3 linked regions of the Homo sapiens genome follow. The protein of the gene in region 1 interacts with the protein of each later gene in a biochemical or structural test. Each region holds a gene or a part of one and is shown in the gene's direction. Other genes may lie near its edges.

Region 1 (6,118 bases):
TGGAGAGGAAAACAGAAGGATTAAGAGCAGGGCCTAGGAGGGAGGTGAGAGAGAAGGGGGCGTTGAGGAAGGAATGAGGACAGACAAGCTGAGTGATGGTCAGAAGATGGTTTGCCATGAGTCTTAGAGGGATCTCTGCTGTCCTCACAGAGGATAAAGAGGTTTACTGCTTCCCTGGAACCCATACGGATGGCTGAAGTGCTCTCTGTATTTTTTCCTATTTCTTTTACATTTTTCCTTATCTGTTGCTTTCTGCTTTCCATGTTTCCCTACTTCCATCTTTGTCTTCTCCATTCGCTCCCAGATTTTTTCCCCATCTGTTTCCCTCTCTTCCCATCCATGCCTCCCTCTATCCTCTGATTCTCACATTTCCTCCTACATTTGTTTTCCACATTCCTGTTTTTCTTCCCACTGATTCTTCTCACCACCCATTCCCAGCATTTTGATCTCCTATAACTCAGAACTTTCTGTCCTGCAGATTATGCCAAGGGCTTTGGTGGCCAGTATGGAATCCAGAAGGACCGAGTGGATAAGGTAAAGCACCGGAACACCAATGTCTTAAGAAGAGTTCCCTAAGTTTAGGAAAGTGTGCAGAGAAGAGCGTGAAGAAGGCTGGGAGAGGGAGGGGACGGTGGTGCTGGGCACACAGAGCCTGTCCTGCTGGCGTCCTGCAGTCCCCACTGACTGCCCTCAGCATCTAAGGGGCATGTCTGCCAAAGCCTGAGCTTTGAGGACAGTGGGAGAGGCATACAGAGAGACAGGTAAACCGCCGGGAAAGGTCGTATTGGACTGGAAATTGTATTGATTTCTTGGCATTGCTTAACCCAATCTTAAGTCTCTTCCCACCCCATGCCACTGTCCTCCCTACACTAGTTCCTCCTCATGCATGAGCCAGGGGGCCCTGCTACATTCTAGGCAACTGGGCTTGGAGATGTGAGATTCTAAGGTCACTGAGCTGCTGAAAGGGGGAGCTGAACTCAGCACTTAAGAACTTCTTTACCCCCTCTCTACCACAAAACAACATTGGAACATGCTGTCCAGCTGTTGAGCATCCAATGGTTAGGGATACCTCTTATAGTGGCCCCCAACCCCCAATACTACCTCCAGGTCACCACTACCCTTGCCCCTCTCCCGCAACACACATGCTGTTCTCCTGCCTGCAGAGCGCTGTCGGCTTCAATGAAATGGAGGCCCCGACCACAGCTTATAAGAAGACGACGCCCATAGAAGCCGGTGAGGCTTAGTGATTCACTCTCCATGCACCTCACTTCCTTCTCCCTCATTCTTTTTCTTCCCCAGACTATATCCTCCATGCCTTTAACTACCTAGATTAGCTGAGTTAGACCTGATCCCTATCCTCATATTCCCAGATTCTGTCTTTCCTAGAAAAACCAGGTAAGGCGGAGCTCACATCTGTAATCCCAGCACTTTGGTGGCTAAAGTGGGAGGACTGCTTGAGCTCAGGAATTTAAGAACAGCTTGGACAACATGGGGAAACCTCATCTCTATAAAAAATACAAAAATTAGCCAGGCATGGAGGTGCACACCTATAATCCCAGCTACTTGGGAGGCTGAGGCAGGAGAATCACTTGAACCCAGGAGGCGGAAGTCGGAGTGAGCTGAGATCATGCCACTCAACTCCAGCCTGGGTGACAGAGTGAGACGAAAGAAAGAGAGAGAGAGGAGAGAGAGGAGAGAGAGAGAGAGAGAGAGAGAGAGAGAGAGAGAGAAAAGGGAGAGAAGAGAGAGAGAGAGAGAAAGAAAGAAAAGAAAGAAAGAGAGAAAGTCAAGTGGATAGACAGAGTGACGTCGGGGAAGGAATCGGAGGCAGAGAACACAGTGTGGCTTGGGACAGGGGTGGGGTGGCATGGGAACATTGGTGAGGAACCACTTGGGAAGAACACACAGGGACAGGAGTTTCGGATGAGGTTGAGGATGAGTGGTGGCTTGAAGAAGGCATACAGATTTATGGAATATGGACAGGGGAGGATGCTTTTTGGAAGCCCAAAGTTTACAATTTAGAAAGGACACAAGTCAGCTGGGCATGGTGGCTCACACCTGTAATCCCAGCACTTTGGGATGCTGAAGTAGGATAATCACTTGAACCCAGGAGTTCAAGATGAGGCTGGGCAACACAGCAAGATCCCCTCTCTACAAAAAATACAAAAATTAGCTGGGTGTGGTGGTGCACATCTGTGGTCCCAACTACTCCAGAGGCTGAGGTAGGAGGATTGCTTGAGCCTGGGAGGTTGAGGCTGCAGTGTCCCATGACTGCACCACTGCACTCTAGCCTGGGCTGAGACCCTGTCTCAAGAAAAAAAAAAGACACGAGTCTTAGGTCGTATAGCCTGGCTTTATAAAAATCCAGGCTTCAGGGCTATGCCATCCTCCTATTATCCCTTGTTCCTCTATCGATACCTCTTTACCATCCTGTCCCACAAATCCCTCCTCCCGGATATTTAACTGATTCCCCTTCTTCCTTCAAGTGCCATGCCCTTCCCCACTCTCCAATCCAAGACAACCCTAATTTTTCTTGCCTGTGTCTGCAGCTTCTAGTGGTACCCGTGGGCTGAAGGCGAAATTTGAGTCCATGGCTGAGGAGAAGAGGAAGCGAGAGGAAGAGGAGAAGGCACAGCAGGTGGCCAGGAGGCAACAGGAGCGAAAGGCTGTGACAAAGAGGAGCCCTGAGGCTCCACAGCCAGTGATAGCTATGGAAGAGCCAGCAGTACCGGCCCCACTGCCCAAGAAAATCTCCTCAGAGGTGAGCGCCTGGCCCTCTGGGATCCACATCCAGGATCTCTTGCCCAGACAGGAGCCTAAGGGGTCCAAACCATTGGCAGAAAATAAGGCAAAGTCCTCCCCTGGGTTAGGCAAGGTCTGTTGTCTCTGTCTTTAGAAGACTTCAGTCTGACTGTAATTGGACCTCCTATCAGAATGTTAGAAAAAACCCTCAAGATTTACATAGTACAACAGAAAGCAAGTCACCAGCCAGCACAGCCAATTATTGCTGTAGGAACTATGAGGAAGGGGCCGTCACTTCAGGCTGGAGCCCATCTTGAGGGATGAGTTCCATTTGAATTGGCAGAGAGTGGGAGAGGGTGTTCCTGGTAAATGTAACAGTGAAGACATGCATGGTGTGGTGGCTCATGCCTGTAATCCTAGCACTTGAGGTGGCCAAGGTGAGAGGATCACTTGAAGCCAGGAGTTCTAGACCAACCTGGGCAACATAGTAAGAACCTATCGCTATAAAAACAATTAAAAAATTAGCTGGGCATGGTGGTGTGTGCCTATAGTCCCAGCTACTTGGGAGGCTTAGAGAGGAGGATTGTTTGAGCCCAAGAGTTTGAGGCTACAGTGAGCTATGATCTCACTGTGCTCCAGCCAGGGCAGCAGAGTGAGACCCTGTCTCAAAAAATGCATAAAATAAAATAAAAAGAATGAAGATGGGCCGAGCGTGGTGGCTCATGCCTGTAATCCCAGCACTTTGGGAGGTCAAGGCAGACAGATCACGAGGTCAGGAAGTCAGGAGTTCAAGACCAGCCTGACCAACATAGTGAAACCCTGTCTCTATTAAAAATACAAAAATTAGCCAGGCATAGTGGCGTGTGCCTGTAATCCCAGCTACTCAGGGGGCTGAGGCAGGAGAATCGCTTGAACCTGGGAGGCGGAGGTTGCAATGAGCTGAGATCGCACCACTGCACTCCAGCCTGGGCTACAGAGCGAGAGTCTATCTCAAAAAAAAAAAAGGAGTGAAGATGGAGGCTTGCTTACTTGAGAGATGCTTCATTTTCCACAGGCCTGGCCTCCAGTTGGGACTCCTCCATCATCAGAGTCTGAGCCTGTGAGAACCAGCAGGGAACACCCAGTGCCCTTGCTGCCCATTAGGCAGACTCTCCCGGAGGTAAGCAAACCCCCAAAGATTCTCTGCCCCCACCCCATCTTCTCGAGTCTTAGGAATGTGGGCTGTGCAGGGTGGCCAACCATCCTGGTTTGCCTTGCACTGTTCTGGTGTTAGCACTGAAGACCTTGCCTTCTGGGAAACTCCTCTGTCCTGGGCAAACTAGTATAGATGATTATCCTAGCTGTGGTAGCTCAACAATGTGCTCTTGCTTCAATGTTTTCTTGGTCTCCCAAAGAATCTGACTTGTTTTCTACTTCCCTCCCCTCACACCTTTTACATTCTCTTCCCATTGTCTCTGGAATGTGTTTTGGGTGGGTGGGTGTGGGAGGAGATTGAAGAATGAAGATGGATGAAAGGCTGTGTTCCCCAGGAGAGGCTGTTAGATGGAGGCAAGGGTAGAGGGGAGAAGAGGCAGGGTGGTGAAGGGCGGGGGATCTTATCAGTCCTCCATTGATTCCTCCTGGAAAGTGGAAGTCACAGTGCTCCACACTGTCTCTTCTCAGGACAATGAGGAGCCCCCAGCTCTGCCCCCTAGGACTCTGGAAGGCCTCCAGGTGGAGGAAGAGCCAGTGTACGAAGCAGAGCCTGAGCCTGAGCCCGAGCCTGAGCCCGAGCCTGAGAATGACTATGAGGACGTTGAGGAGATGGACAGGCATGAGCAGGAGGATGAACCAGAGGGGGACTATGAGGAGGTGCTCGAGCCTGAAGATTCTTCTTTTTCTTCTGCTCTGGCTGGTGAGTGATGGGAGGAGAAGCAGGAGAATTTGCTCATGTCCAGGGGAGGGTAAGAGGAAGAAGAATTTCTCTATTGCCCCAGTAGGATCTTTCTCTGTTTGCCTTCTTCATGTTGATGATCCCATGTTTGTGTTTCTCATTATGCAGGATCATCAGGCTGCCCGGCTGGGGCTGGGGCTGGGGCTGTGGCTCTGGGGATCTCAGCTGTGGCTGTATATGATTACCAAGGAGGTAGGTTGGGAGTGGCCCGAGGAGCCTGGTACATGGAGGCCCCTGATATAAGACAGGGGGACATGTGAAAAGAGATTCATGTCTGACCATTCTAATATCCCCTCAACTTTCTCCCCAGAGGGAAGTGATGAGCTTTCCTTTGATCCGGACGACGTAATCACTGACATTGAGATGGTGGACGAGGGCTGGTGGCGGGGACGTTGCCATGGCCACTTTGGACTCTTCCCTGCAAATTATGTCAAGCTTCTGGAGTGACTAGAGCTCACTGTCTACTGCAACTGTGATTTCCCATGTCCAAAGTGGCTCTGCCTCCACCCCCTCCCTATTCCTGCTGCAAATGTCTAACCAGATGAGGTTCTGGACAGACTTCCCTCTCCTGCTTCATTAAGGGCTTGGGGCAGAGACAGCATGGGGAAGGAGGTCCCCTTCCCCAAGAGTCCTCTCTATCCTGGATGAGCTCATGAACATTTCTCTTGTGTTCCTGACTCCTTCCCAATGAACACCTCTCTGCCACCCCAAGCTCTGCTCTCCTCCTCTGTGAGCTCTGGGCTTCCCAGTTTGTTTACCCGGGAAAGTACGTCTAGATTGTGTGGTTTGCCTCATTGTGCTATTTGCCCACTTTCCTTCCCTGAAGAAATATCTGAACCTTCTTTCTGTTCAGTCCTAAAATTCGAAATAAAGTGAGACTATGGTTCACCTGTATGCTGAGGTAAATAGTACTTTTTGTGTGGCCCTCATGGCCTCAAATCTTAAGGCTCCAACCTTTCCTCTTCCAGGCATATCCAGGAAACTTTCTCTTACCACTGCCAATTCCCCTGTACCCTAGATGTCAAAGACTAGGCCTTTTCCTTAGGCTGAACTTTTTTTTTTTTTGAGAAGGAGTTTTGCTCTGTCACCCAGGCTGGGGTGCCGCAGTGTGATCTCAGCTCACTGCAGCCTCCACTTCCTGGGTTCAAGAGATTCTCCTGCCTCAGCCTCCCGAGTACCTGCAACTACAGGCGTGCACCACCATGCCCGGCTAATTTTTGTATTTTTAGTAGAGATGGGGTTTCCCCATGTTGGCCAGGCTGATCTTGAACTCCTGACCTCAGATGATCGCCCCCCGCTTAGCCTCCCAAAGTGCTGGGATGACAGGCATAAGCCACTGCACCTGGCCTCCTTAGGCTGCATTTTAAACCCAGTCCAAAACAGATCAGCCTGAGCAATGGCTGGGCATGGTATTGTGGGCCTATAGCACCAGCTACTCAGTAG
Region 2 (6,735 bases), on another chromosome or scaffold:
TCAACACTTCCTCCGTCCCCCTCCTGCCTGCCCTCCTGGACACACCACTTGCCAATGCCTTCCCCTGTTTCCTGAACTGTGCCTAGTACCCAGGGGCGGACTGACCTTCCCAGGGTCCACTGAGACTTCCACCACCCTTGGTTTGAAAACACGAGGCTCCTTTAATTCAACCCAAGATGGCCACAGGCCAGTTTCATGATCATCTGAGTCTTCTATGGCACCTGTGGTCACTTCAGCTCCCCCATTGTACCTGCACAGTTGGTTTAGGGCTACGGTTCAATCCCAGAAAGAATCCCCAAGGGAGAGGAGTGATTGAGGCCTGAGGTTGAAGTTTAGACTTAGGACAACATCCAAGTCTAAGAGAGTGCAGGAAGAGCAGTAGCCGGGGCGGGAGCAGCCAGAGAGAAGAGAAGCAGGAGACTGTGCTGCTCTGGAGGCCAAAGGAGGAAAGAGTTTGGAGGTGGAGGTGGGAGAAGGATCTGAGTGATCTGATTACTGGAGTGGTGAAAAAAGAACTAGGGAGAGCGGCAGAGGATTTTAGGTGGAGCTCATTAGCCAGCCTGTGGACAGGTCACTTTCCCTCTCTGAGCCTCAACTTCCTCATCTGTAAAATGAGTGCACAGAAGGGCTACAGTGAGATGAACTGAGGCTCCATGGCACCCTGATGACTGTGATTGTAGCAATTTTAATTCAAGAGAAACCTAACGAGAAGAGATGCTAACCTTTGCAGGGCACCTACTGTGTGCCAGGCATTTTACACTCCCCTTCTCTGTAACCCTCCCAGCCAGGATGTGAAGCAGGTGTACCAGCCCCATTTTACACATGGGGAAAATGGAGTCTTGGCTTGTGAGGTGACTGTGCAGGAGGCTGAGGTGAGGTTTGAGCAGAGCGTACCTGACTCTTGCCTGCCTTTCCCAACAGGTGGTACTTTGGAAAGATTGGGAGAAAGGATGCAGAGAGGCAGCTGCTTTCACCAGGCAACCCCCAGGGGGCCTTTCTCATTCGGGAAAGCGAGACCACCAAAGGTAGGGGTGGTGCCACGCCCCAAGGCGACTGGGAGGCCCAGCCATTGGGGTAGGGCTAGGAGCGGTAGGCTGCTTGGGTTAAGGCCAAGACTGGGACCAGGTCCTAGGGATGCTGCTGTCGGGCCTCTCCCAGCTCCCAGACTAGGGCAGAGGAGAACAGCAGATCAAAAGTGATCCTCTCCACAGGTGCCTACTCCCTGTCCATCCGGGACTGGGATCAGACCAGAGGCGATCATGTGAAGCATTACAAGATCCGCAAACTGGACATGGGCGGCTACTACATCACCACACGGGTTCAGTTCAACTCGGTGCAGGAGCTGGTGCAGCACTACATGGGTGAGGGCAGGGGCCTCAGATCCCTGAACCAACCAACTGAAGCATTGTCCAGATGGGGGAACTGAGGCCCAGAGAAGGGAAGGGACTACCAAGCAGTATTGGCCAGACGGAAACCAGAACCCAAGGATGGGGTCTGCCAGCCCAGGATCCAGCTCTGTGAGCTTCTGGAGGAAAGCAGTCCTTCACCAAGCAGCACCCCCTAATGACTGAGCAAGGCATTGGCCAGTTTCTTGCCTCAAGGCCTCAATTTGTGGAAACTTGATGGAGTGTTTGTGCCGCCTGAATGCCCCACCAAGGCACCAGGACTGCCCTGTGGGCAGACAGGGAGCCATCATCACAGGGCCCTGAGCAGGGGGTGACAGAGGCTGGTCTCACTTTTGTGAGAAACTCTGGCTGCTGGTGGAGCTTGGATGCCAGGGGCCAAGGCAGAGTGAGGGGTCCATTAGAAGGCAGTGGCTGTTGTCCAGGTGAGAGGTGGTGGAGGCCAGACTAAATCGGTGGCAGTGGAGTAAAGATGAAGCAGACGATTCTGAAGCTGGGTAGGAGGCAGAATAGGCCTGACTTGGTGGAGAATTGGCTGTGGGGGTGAAGGGAAGGCAGGAGTCAATGCCCACGTTTCTGCCTTGATTGGTTATGCCAAGGATGAGGTCCACGGAAGACCGTGGGCCTCATGTCCACACCTTTGCCTGGAATCCCAACCCCATTTCCACCTGTGAGAATCCCACCTTATCCTTCAAGGCCCAGCTGGAGGCTACCTCCTATGGGAGGCCCCCAGTCCTTACAGAAGGCTTACAGGGATCATCTCTCCCTCTGGGTGCCACCCCCTTCCTTGGGCACCAACATGTTCCCCTATTTAGTGGATCGGGTTGCCTTTCTTCCTGGCCTGTGACCTCACTTGGGGCCTAGTTCCTTATAACTGATCTTAGGGTCTGGCACCAGGCTGGGATAGGATAAGGAGTGGAGGGGGGTGTCCTGGCCCACCTGTGACTCTACTTCATGACCCCTCCCCTAGAGGTGAATGACGGGCTGTGCAACCTGCTCATCGCGCCCTGCACCATCATGAAGCCGCAGACGCTGGGCCTGGCCAAGGACGCCTGGGAGATCAGCCGCAGCTCCATCACGCTGGAGCGCCGGCTGGGCACCGGCTGCTTCGGGGATGTGTGGCTGGGTACGGAGCTCCCGGGGGCCGGGACGAGGGCCTGGGCTCGGGGGAGAGGGTCCTGACAAGACAGCCTCCGAGCAGGCACGTGGAACGGCAGCACTAAGGTGGCGGTGAAGACGCTGAAGCCGGGCACCATGTCCCCGAAGGCCTTCCTGGAGGAGGCGCAGGTCATGAAGCTGCTGCGGCACGACAAGCTGGTGCAGCTGTACGCCGTGGTGTCGGAGGAGCCCATCTACATCGTGACCGAGTTCATGTGTCACGGTCAGGAGGCGGAGCCTGGTCGGGCGGGATTCGGGGTGAAGTTAAGAGGGGAGTTTTCAGGCGTGGGACCTGGGACGCGATCTGTGAGGGACAAGGGACAATGGGCAGAGTCCCACTAAGGGACCAGGTGTGTAAAACGACTGGAGGGCTGAGGTGGGAGCCGGGCCGAGTGAGACCACTAGGGAGCTGGGGAGGGGGGCGGTGCCTCCGGTGTTAGGCGGGTAGGGCTTGGGCTAACGAAGGCAGAATCGGGAATGAGGGAGGGTCTGGGGCGGAGTCTGGGTGGGTCGTGTCCGGAACACCAAGGAACAGAAGAAACGAGATGTGGGCAGAGTCCGTGTCTGGCAGCAGGGCCAGGACGAGACAAGTGAGGGGTTGAGGCACCCGCGGGGTCCTAAGTGAGGGGCGGGTCCAGGTGGGAGGGGCTGAGGGGCGGGGTCAAGCGAGAGGAGGAGGGGCTGGGGCCCGGGGTAGGGCTTTGCCGCTGACTTTCTGGCTTCTTCCCAGGCAGCTTGCTGGATTTTCTCAAGAACCCAGAGGGCCAGGATTTGAGGCTGCCCCAATTGGTGGACATGGCAGCCCAGGTAACTGGGCCAGCAGCCTTTACCTCCCGGACCTCCCACCTATTAACTGTTCACAAATTCTCTGTCCCTTCAAACGCCTGGGAGGGCGGCCCCGCCCCCTGCATCAGCTGTGCCTCCAGCTGTGCCTGAGAGGTACTGCCTCTCTTTCTGGGCCTCAGTCTCCCCCTCTGGAAAGTGGGTTTTTCAAATGGTCCCTCACCCCTCAAACAGGCCACGGTGTTGTGAGTCCACATGAGCTCCCATCTCTCCACACTATGGTCCCCCAGGTAGCTGAGGGCATGGCCTACATGGAACGCATGAACTACATTCACCGCGACCTGAGGGCAGCCAACATCCTGGTTGGGGAGCGGCTGGCGTGCAAGATCGCAGACTTTGGCTTGGCGCGTCTCATCAAGGACGATGAGTACAACCCCTGCCAAGGTGCCCTGCTTCACCCCACCTTCCAAGAGCTCCCCATGCAACAAGGGACTTCCATGGGGCCCCACGCACTCAGGAACCCTTCCTCACTCCAGGTCGCCCGAGTCGCCCCATCCTGATGTAGTATGAGAGGCAATTCTGGGCTCAAATCCCAGGTCGGCCACTTACCAGCCATGTGGCCTTGGGCAAGTCACCTAACCTCTGGGAGCTGCCGTTTCTCTTCTGTAAAGTGACAATATTCAGATAACAGGAAGTCAGCAGATGTTTACCAGGCACCTGCTATGTGACAGGCACAGCTATAATTCTTGAATGAAAGACAATGGCGTGTAACAGTGGGAATTCTGTAGCCAGAATGCCTGAGTATGAATCCCAGCCAGGTATTAACTCTGTGATCTGGGCAAGTTACCTAACTACTCAGTGTCTCCGTTTCCTCGTCTGTAAAATGAGTCTCTATCTCATGGGGGTTTTGGGAGGGTTAAATGAGTTAATGCATGCATATCACTTAAAACAGTGTCTGGCACACAGGAAAGGCTAGCCAAGTATTGGCCGTTATTAGGATAAGAATTATTGCGATTTTTGGAAAGTGCCCATCACTATACTAGACACATAGTAGGTGTTGACTAGATACCATGTCCTTTCTACTATGCCCAGAGACCCTTGTGCTCAGGATCCCCGAAATCCTCATCCCTAGAGTCCCCATTCTCTCTCTGTCTCTTTTTTTTTTTTTTTTTTTTTTTTGAGATGGAGTCTCACTGTCACCCAGGCTGAAGTGCAGTGGTGCGATCTCAGGTTATTGAAGCCTCCCAGGTTCAAGCAATTCTCCTGCCGCAGCCTCCCTAGTAGCTGGGATTACAGGCACCCGCCACCATGCCCGGCTAATTTTTGTATTTTTAGTAGAGACAGGGTTTCGCCATGTTGGCCAGGCTGGTCTCAAACTCCTGACCTCAAGTGATCCGCCTGCCTTGGCCTCCCAAAGTGCTGGGATTACAGACGTGAGCCACTGCGCCCAGACCCCATTCTCTTAATCCAGCTGTTTCCAGGGACCCCCTCACTAACTTTCCCTGCTCCCCCATCTTCTCCAGGTTCCAAGTTCCCCATCAAGTGGACAGCCCCAGAAGCTGCCCTCTTTGGCAGATTCACCATCAAGTCAGACGTGTGGTCCTTTGGGATCCTGCTCACTGAGCTCATCACCAAGGGCCGAATCCCCTACCCAGGTTTGCCTCGCCAGGGGTAGGGCTGGGGTGGGGGATGGTCACGGGGAAGGGCTTCCACCTGGCTGTCCCTTTGACTGACAGAGACCCATCCTTCAGGCATGAATAAACGGGAAGTGTTGGAACAGGTGGAGCAGGGCTACCACATGCCGTGCCCTCCAGGCTGCCCAGCATCCCTGTACGAGGCCATGGAACAGACCTGGCGTCTGGACCCGGAGGAGAGGCCTACCTTCGAGTACCTGCAGTCCTTCCTGGAGGACTACTTCACCTCCGCTGAACCACAGTACCAGCCCGGGGATCAGACATAGCCTGTCCGGGCATCAACCCTCTCTGGCGGTGGCCACCAGTCCTTGCCAATCCCCAGAGCTGTTCTTCCAAAGCCCCCAGGCTGGCTTAGAACCCCATAGAGTCCTAGCATCACCGAGGACGTGGCTGCTCTGACACCACCTAGGGCAACCTACTTGTTTTACAGATGGGGCAAAAGGAGGCCCAGAGCTGATCTCTCATCCGCTCTGGCCCCAAGCACTATTTCTTCCTTTTCCACTTAGGCCCCTACATGCCTGTAGCCTTTCTCACTCCATCCCCACCCAAAGTGCTCAGACCTTGTCTAGTTATTTATAAAACTGTATGTACCTCCCTCACTTCTCTCCTATCACTGCTTTCCTACTCTCCTTTTATCTCACTCTAGTCCAGGTGCCAAGAATTTCCCTTCTACCCTCTATTCTCTTGTGTCTGTAAGTTACAAAGTCAGGAAAAGTCTTGGCTGGACCCCTTTCCTGCTGGGTGGATGCAGTGGTCCAGGACTGGGGTCTGGGCCCAGGTTTGAGGGAGAAGGTTGCAGAGCACTTCCCACCTCTCTGAATAGTGTGTATGTGTTGGTTTATTGATTCTGTAAATAAGTAAAATGACAATATGAATCCTCAAACCATGAAATACCCTTGAACCTTCCTTTGGGAGCGGGGGTGGTCAATAGGGGGTGAACGGACAGATATGGCTACAGGCAGCAGCAGGGGAAGCTGGAGAGGGCCCTAATGCCTACCAAGCACGGGGCATCCAAGGTGTGGAGTTTTAGAACACCCAGAGTCCCACTGCTCATCTGCACGTGAGTTTAGAAGACAAGCAGCTGAAGATACATTAAAATGTCCCCTTCGTTGCTGATATGGCCTTCAATCTGTGTATAATAGGTTTGCTAATTCTTTATCTGAGTTCATCAGATTTGCCATTCATCACAGGCGCAATGGGACAACCTTAGGCCTCCTTTGCCAGGGCAGGGAGGAAGACCACAGTGGACCCTCTGGAGCTGTCAGACTCTCCAAAAGAGGACAGAAGAGAGGGGAGGAGAGAGAAGAGGCCTGAGGGTTAGTCTAACTCACTGGATCTCATTAGGGGAGTTTTGCCCCCAGGGGAGCTTTTGGAGAGGTTTGAAGGCAGTTTGATTTGTTTGGATCCTACAGGTAGGGTTCAGGGATGCTGAACAATCTGCAGTGCACCTGCGCGATGATGAATCTTCCCACTCCCTCGTTCCCCTGAGAGAAACTCTGGAAGCTGACATGCCTCCGTGTGGAAACAAGGGGAGCAGGGAATAAAGATTCCCACCTCTCCCATCAGAAAATGTTTGTTGACCATCTGACTTACTAAGGGAATGGACAGAGAAGGAATCTGGGAGCTGGGAATCACTGCAGCAATTGGCAAATCATTACTGAGCATTGACTCTGCAAAGCATTGACTCTTTGCTAAGG
Region 3 (7,113 bases), on another chromosome or scaffold:
GCAGCCTGTAAATAATTTAGAACTAATCTTAAAAACTGGAAAAAGGCAGGGCGTGGTGGCTCACACCTATAATCCCAGCACTTTGGGAGGCTGAGGCAGGCGGATCACCTGAGGTCAGGAGTTCGAGATCAGCCTGGCCAACATGGTGAAACCCCGTCTCTACTAAAAACACAAAAATTAGCCGGGCGTGGTGGCGGACGCTTGTAATCCCAGCTACTCGGGAGGCTGAGGTAGGAGAATTGCTTGAACCCAGGAGGCAGAGGTTGCAGTGAGCCAAGATTGCGCCACTGCACTCCAGCCTGGGTGTCAGATCGAGACTCGGTCTCAAAAAAAAAAAAAAAAGAAAAAAAAAAAGAAAAAATTGACACATGCCTAATAATTATCAATACAGTTATAGACTCAGTTTAATAAATAAAGGAATAATGTCTCTCAACTAGGACAACCTAATGATAAAAATGAATGGCTGAGGAGATATACAATACTTGTTTGTTTTTCACTAATTAGAGCTAGATTTTGATTATTTATTTAGAGACAGAGTCTCTCTCTGTCACCCAGGCTGGAGTGCAGTGGTGTGATCATAACTCAGTGTAACCTCGAATTCCTAGGGTCAAGCAATCCTTTTTCCTCAGCCCTCTCAAGTAGCTGGAACTACAGGTGTGTGCCACCATGCCTAGCTAGTTTTTAAATTTTTTGTAGAGACAGGGTCTCGCTATGTTGCCCAGGCTGGTGTCAAACTCTGGGTCTCAAGCAATGGTCCTGCCTTGGCCTCCCAAAGCACTGGGATTATAGGTGTGAGTCACCATGCCCAGCTTCAAGTTGTTTTTTGTTTTTGTTTAAGTTAGTTTTTTAAAAAGTATGTTTTTCTTGAGTGCCAGCTGTTTGGAAATAGTAAGTTTATTTTGACTATGGTATATCATCGTTTGAATATATAGCTGATGTTTGTTATTCAAAGTAGATGTGCCAAAAAGTTCTTGAGAGCGCTGAATTAGTGAACACTGAGCTAGCTATTGCTCCTAGGGGAAATACAGTATTAGGTTTCTTTGAGCCTCTGGTAACATTTTTGTTATCCCATTAACATATACCCTTGTTTCATGTGTGTTTCTTTTTAAAGGCACTGCATTTAGTATATCATTTTAGTATATTCATTTATATTCAATAGCACTAGAACACATGTCTGAACAAAGCTATCTAACTTGCTTTTTCTCTGTAAGACACATCACAGCCTCCTTGTGTTTACTAGCCAGCACTTGAGCAGTATGCTTGGGGGCCATTTTAAATAATGAAATCACTAACAAAAATATGAAAACCGTGCCACTAAATAGAACTGTGAAAAGGACACTTGTTTATAGTATGAGAGCTGAAACTAGATAGCAGAGTATCATCTTGTTCAACCTCAATGGGGAATGTGCACATCAGTGGACTCAAATTTTTGTTGCTCTACACGTGCATGTCCATGAATAACCATATTTTGATTTGGGGAGTAACAAATATGTTTTAGCGATTAGGTAAATTCACAAATATGGAATCATGAATAATGAGATTAGACTACATTTATTTATTTCATCCCCTATTGATGGACTTAACGGGTTTTTCCTCTTAGAAACAAGGCTATAGTAAATATGCATATGTAATAGCATACATGTTTGGGGAGTTTCTTCAGAGTTTGTTGTAAGAAGTGGAGTTACTGGTATGTGCATTTAAAATTTTATTAGCTATTTGTATTAGTCCGTTTTCATACTGCTAATAAAGACATACCTGAGACTGGGCAATTTATAAAAGAAAGAGGTTTAATTGGACTTATGGTTCCACGTGGCTGGGGAAGCCTCACAATCATGGCAGAAGGCAAGGAGGAGCAAGTCCTGTCTTACATGATGGCAGCAGGCAAAGAGAGAATGAGGAAGACGCAAAAGCAGAAATCCCTGATAAAACCATCAGACCTTGTGCAACTTATTCACTCCATGAGAACAGTATGGGGGAAACCACCCTCATGATTCAATTCTCTCTCACCAGGTCCCTCCCACAACACGTGGAAATTATGGGAGTACAATTCAAGATGAGATTTGGGTGGGGACACAGAGCCAGACCATGTCACTATGTTACTATTGCCAAATTATTCTCCATAGTGGTTACATCAGTGTATACTCTCACAGCGTTATATGAAAGTTTCCATTTACCCAGATTTTTGCCAGCTCATAGTATATGTATGACTTTACATGTTTGCTATTCTGATAGTTATAAAATGGTATATATCATCATAATTTTGAGTTTTCTCTGATTTCAGTGTCTTCAATCTGAATCTGTTAGAGACCAGTATTAGTGGTTTCTAAAAGGCCTTTTGTTTTTGAACTGAAAACTTTGTTTAACCTTTTATTGTGATATTTGTCAGTAGTGATATGATCTCTATTATATATCCAACTTATTTTTCAGTTTGCTAATCCAGACTTTACACAACCTATCTCAGAAGTTGTAGATGAAGTAATTCAGAATTGTCCTATTGATGTCAGACGTCCTCTCTACAAGGTATTTATAGCAAAATTGTTATTCAAGGTCTTACTTTAAAAAAACTTAAACACCTCTCATAAAAAGGATATAATAGCATTTCAGTACTATATATTATATCTTTAAACTTTTCTCTTTTTAAATATTATATTTATTTTCTCTCCACTAGAATATTGTCCTCTCTGGAGGTTCAACCATGTTCAGGGACTTTGGACGTCGCTTGCAAAGAGATTTGAAAAGAACTGTAGATGCCCGGCTGAAATTAAGTGAGGAATTGAGTGGTGGTAGATTGAAGGTTGGTTTTCCCAATTATTGGTGAGAAGGTTGAGGGTGCCTTCCTTGATTAGGATGAGAAATATTTGCCAGCATTCACTCTGATTTAGAAAAATAAGAGGAACCTGTCAGGTATTCTAATGGAAATGGTTAATGTTATAGATTTATGTCTGTGATATTCTGGATCATTTGATTCTTCTAGGATATTGTCTGTATTTCTGGAAAATAATTCTTAGTAATACCTGTGGAAAGACTTTTTTTTTAAATACCTCTCTCATAGATAATTAATATAGTAGATTTCTTTGCATACACCAACAATCAAATTAATTATGGATCCACAAAATGTTTTATACTATAGAAGGACAGCAAAGCTGAGTTGAGATTGATGCCATTGTTGAGTAGTCAAGCCTGCTCTCAAAAACTGACTTTAGCTCCCACATAGCAACCTCAAAGTGTGCAGTCAAATCGGTGGTTTAATAAAGTAACCTTTGTATTACATGTCCTGGACCTTTAGGCTTGAGGTTAAAAAAAATCAAAATTAATTTAAAATTCTTAGATGTCTACTTTCTATATTTAGAGATAGATTCTTCATTTTTTTCATCCTTGTTAAATATTGAAGCAGAACGTTGATTTAGAGGAATGATATGGCTTTTTTCAAAGCTGTTTGAAAAAAGGTATTTCATGTGAATAAAATACCTTCTGCTTGGAAGATTACCAAGAATGAGGACTTTATCTGAGACTTCCATAATCATTCAGAATTACTTAAAAGTAAAGCACAGCACTCTAGGGTTTGCTGATTGTTGAGAAATTGCATGATGGCTGACTGTTGTCAGTGCCTATATTTTGATTATCTTGAGTAAACCTATCCCTAGGAATGCAGTAAAAAGTATATGTTTTGGGTGGAAGGCAAAATATTGAACTCTGTCCCTATAATGTCATGACTTCACACTTCAGGAAGTCTACTCAATAGACTTTTAAAATGTTGTGTTTGCTTTTGCATCCCCTTCCCAACCAACCAAACCACCAGCCCACCCCCATTCATCCATTCATTTGCCCATCCGTCTACTCCCCTTACCCACATATCTATCTACCCTACCTCCTACCTAAAAAAGAAGTCATTGGGTTTTGCAAGTATAAATTCTCTGTACTGAGAATCCTACTAACCACATTGATTATGTGAATGAACATAGTGCATGTTCTGGTTTTTTTGTTAGAATACTTAAAAGATTGAAGTTGATTGTCCTAATGGTATGGTTATGGATGTATTAAAGTAGCTGTTTAGTTTTTAATAACTCATTACAGATATATAAGTACAAAACAATGCTGTATGTTTCTGAGTATAGTATTTTAAAAAAGTGAGATTGTTTAACATTTTTAAGCTCTTTTTACACTTGTAAATAAGAAATAAATTTACCCAGTGATCAGTACCGTATCGACATATTGAAAGAAACAGATTGGGTGTCCCTTTTTTGAATTGCTTCATACCAGAAGTGTTGCAGGTTTTGAGTTTTTCTGGATTTTGGAGTATTTGCATTATATACTGGTTCAACATCCTTAATCCAAAAATCTGAAATTCTGAGCATTTCCTTTGAACATCATGTTGGTGCTCAAAAAGTTTTTGGATCTTGGAGCATTTTGGATTTTCAGACTTGGGATGCTCATCATGTATAGGAAAAACCTTGTGTTTTGGAGGACTCTGCCTTCTTCACCTTAGTTTTACTTGCTAGTAACTTTTATAGATCTTAATAGCATGCCTTTATCTATCTATCTCTGGCTTTATTTTCCTTCAGTCTGTAATTTTTAATGGCAACCAAACAGTTTTGAAAAAAGCCATATCATTCTGTTTCTATAAATAGGTGTGTGTACACACACACACACACTAAATTGTAGATATGATGGTTCATTATCCCCAAACATTTTAGTATATTTCTAAAATCAAGAACATATTACAATTATCAAAATCATGAAATTAACCTTGATCCAGTGTTATCTAGTTATAGAACTGATTCTAATTTTACCGGTTGTTTCACTAATGTCCCTTATAACAAAAGGAAAACAAAATACCTTCTTCCCCCTTATCCAGGATCCAATCAAGGATTGCATGTTTCATTTACTTATTGTGTTGCTTCAGTCTGTTACATACTCAATGTTTTTTGTCTTTCATGAATGAATGTGACATTTTTGAAGAGTACAGCCATTTATTTTGTAGCATATCCTTCAGCTTGGGTTTGTTTAATATTTCTGCTTGAGTAGGTTCAGATTATGTACTTTTGGCAGTGATGCCACAGAATTGATATTGTATCATTTTTAGTGCATTGTATCAGTAGACACATGATAGAATTTGTCCTGTGTGTGAATTTTGAGCTTTTGGTTGAAGTTGTGTCTGCCAGGTTTTTTCACTATAAAGTTATTATGTTTTCCTTTATATTTAATAAGAATCTAATGAGGAGACACTTTCAGACTATCCTGTTTCTCTTTTAAGTTTCAGTCACTAGTTTTTAGCATCCATTGTGATTCTTCCCTAAAACAGTTATTACTGTGGTAGTTGCTAAATGGAGTTTTGCAATTTCTGTCATTCCTTCTATGTTTTTAAGACTTGTTTTACTATAAGCAAGAGTTTTCCCTTCTCCCACATTCATTTATTCTTTTAGTAATATCTATATGAACTCCTGATTTCTCATTTTGTGGTCTATATCTTTAATATCACTGTAATATCATAATATCAGTAATACCACTCATCATTAATTTTAATCCCACATTTTTTTTTTTTTCAGATTTGACCAGTGGGAGTTATTCAAATGGCTCTTAGGTTTTTTTTTTTGATGCAGCCACATCTTTTTTTTTGCCTACTTCTGTACTTCCCGGCACAGCAAGGTGTTTCAGGCTGATCTTGTACTTTCTCTTTTCTGGCCCTGGAATCAGCCCTTTTTTTCTCCTTTTCTTTCTTCAAGACACCCTTGTCTTATTCCTGTTAGTGGAGAACGTTACTAAGAAACCAAGCTTTGTGCTCATTGCTGTTGGGGTATCACTGAGTCTAGGCCTTCTCAGTGATTAGAGCTAGGGGTGTGTGTGTGTTTATACATCTATATCTAATTCTCTACATAAATTAAAACCATGAATTTTTACAGACGTCTCCAGTTATAGAAGGTTCACTCTAGTTTTCTGCCCTTCCATATTGTAATGCCCTTCTCTGACAGTGAGAAACCTGGCTCCTATTATCTATAATATGTTTATGTTTTTGCTTAATCCTGGAATATGTATATGATAGTTTCAGAATTGTTAATCCACACCACTGTGAAAAATAGACCCAAAACTAGAATTCAATATTTGCTTATATTTTATCTTCAGCCTGAAGGCTTATAAGATTCAAAATACTATGCTCACAAGTTGCTTGTGTTAGTCCCTTTCCTCACCTTAGTGTGCTTATGTTTGAAAAAAGTACAATTAGTTTAATTTGTTTTTGTTGTACTTTGTTTTGCCCCAACCTCCCCTTCTTTTAAGGTGTTATTTTTTAGTATGTAAAACACTAACATTTAGATTCTTAAAGTCAGAACTGTATAAAACATGTGCTCATTGTTATTTCCCTTCCATTTATTCTGCTCTGTTCCCTCCCTGTCTCTTCCACAGTGTTCCCAACCCCTTTCCTCTGAGACAGCCAATCTCAATTGTTTCTGGTTTGTAAGATACCACCTGAATTTAGTACAGATATTATTTTTGTATATGTACATTTAAGGTTAAATGACACAGAAGTTGTTATTTGAATTTACTATGAAGATGATCATACTATGTCTTTCTTTAGCCAAAACCTATTGATGTACAAGTCATTACACACCACATGCAGCGATATGCAGTTTGGTTTGGAGGATCAATGCTGGCTTCCACGGTGAGTGTGATGAAGCTTACTTTTATTTTATTTTATCATTATTATTTTATTTATTTTTGAGGTGGACTTTCGCTCTTGTCACCCAGGCTGGAGTGCAATGGCATGATCTTGGCTCACTGCAACCTCCACCTCCTGGGTTAAAGTGATTCTCCTGCCTCAGCCTCCCAAGTAGCTGGGACTACAGGCATGCGTCACCACACCTGGCTAATTTTGCATTTTTAGCAGAGACTGGGTTTCATCATGTTGGCTAGGTTACTCTTGAACTCCTGACCTTGGGATCTGCCCACCTTGGCCTCCCAAAGCAAAGTGTTGGGTTTACAGGTGTGAGCCACTGCTCCTGGCCTTTATTATTATTATTATTTTTTATTGAGATGAGGTCTTACTATGTTGGGCCAGGCTGGTCTCAAACTCTTGGGCTCAAGTGATCCTTCCACCTCAGCCTCCCAAAGAGCGCTGAG

The links.
Region 2: the proteins of HCLS1 (region 1) and FGR form a complex in vitro, tested with the Homo sapiens proteins (one study listed by BioGRID).
Region 3: the proteins of HCLS1 (region 1) and ACTR3 form a complex in vitro, tested with the Homo sapiens proteins (one study listed by BioGRID).

Annotation. Positions count from the first base shown.
Region 1 is NC_000003.12:121,630,850-121,636,967, reverse strand, and holds the end of HCLS1 (hematopoietic lineage cell-specific protein), read left to right. Parts: intron 1-478; coding exon 479-534; intron 535-1,163; coding exon 1,164-1,233; intron 1,234-2,549; coding exon 2,550-2,761; intron 2,762-3,796; coding exon 3,797-3,901; intron 3,902-4,404; coding exon 4,405-4,636; intron 4,637-4,783; coding exon 4,784-4,867; intron 4,868-4,985; coding exon 4,986-5,122; 3' UTR 5,123-5,569; downstream 5,570-6,118. UniProt on the Homo sapiens protein: Substrate of the antigen receptor-coupled tyrosine kinase. Plays a role in antigen receptor signaling for both clonal expansion and deletion in lymphoid cells. May also be involved in the regulation of gene expression.
Region 2 is NC_000001.11:27,611,483-27,618,217, reverse strand, and holds the end of FGR (tyrosine-protein kinase Fgr), read left to right. Parts: intron 1-921; coding exon 922-1,025; intron 1,026-1,211; coding exon 1,212-1,361; intron 1,362-2,373; coding exon 2,374-2,529; intron 2,530-2,604; coding exon 2,605-2,784; intron 2,785-3,291; coding exon 3,292-3,368; intron 3,369-3,634; coding exon 3,635-3,788; intron 3,789-4,867; coding exon 4,868-4,999; intron 5,000-5,095; coding exon 5,096-5,304; 3' UTR 5,305-6,154; downstream 6,155-6,735. UniProt on the Homo sapiens protein: Non-receptor tyrosine-protein kinase that transmits signals from cell surface receptors devoid of kinase activity and contributes to the regulation of immune responses, including neutrophil, monocyte, macrophage and mast cell functions, cytoskeleton remodeling in response to extracellular stimuli, phagocytosis, cell adhesion and migration.
Region 3 is NC_000002.12:113,949,052-113,956,164, forward strand, and holds part of ACTR3 (actin-related protein 3), read left to right. Parts: intron 1-2,427; coding exon 2,428-2,520; intron 2,521-2,668; coding exon 2,669-2,794; intron 2,795-6,571; coding exon 6,572-6,655; intron 6,656-7,113. UniProt on the Homo sapiens protein: ATP-binding component of the Arp2/3 complex, a multiprotein complex that mediates actin polymerization upon stimulation by nucleation-promoting factor (NPF).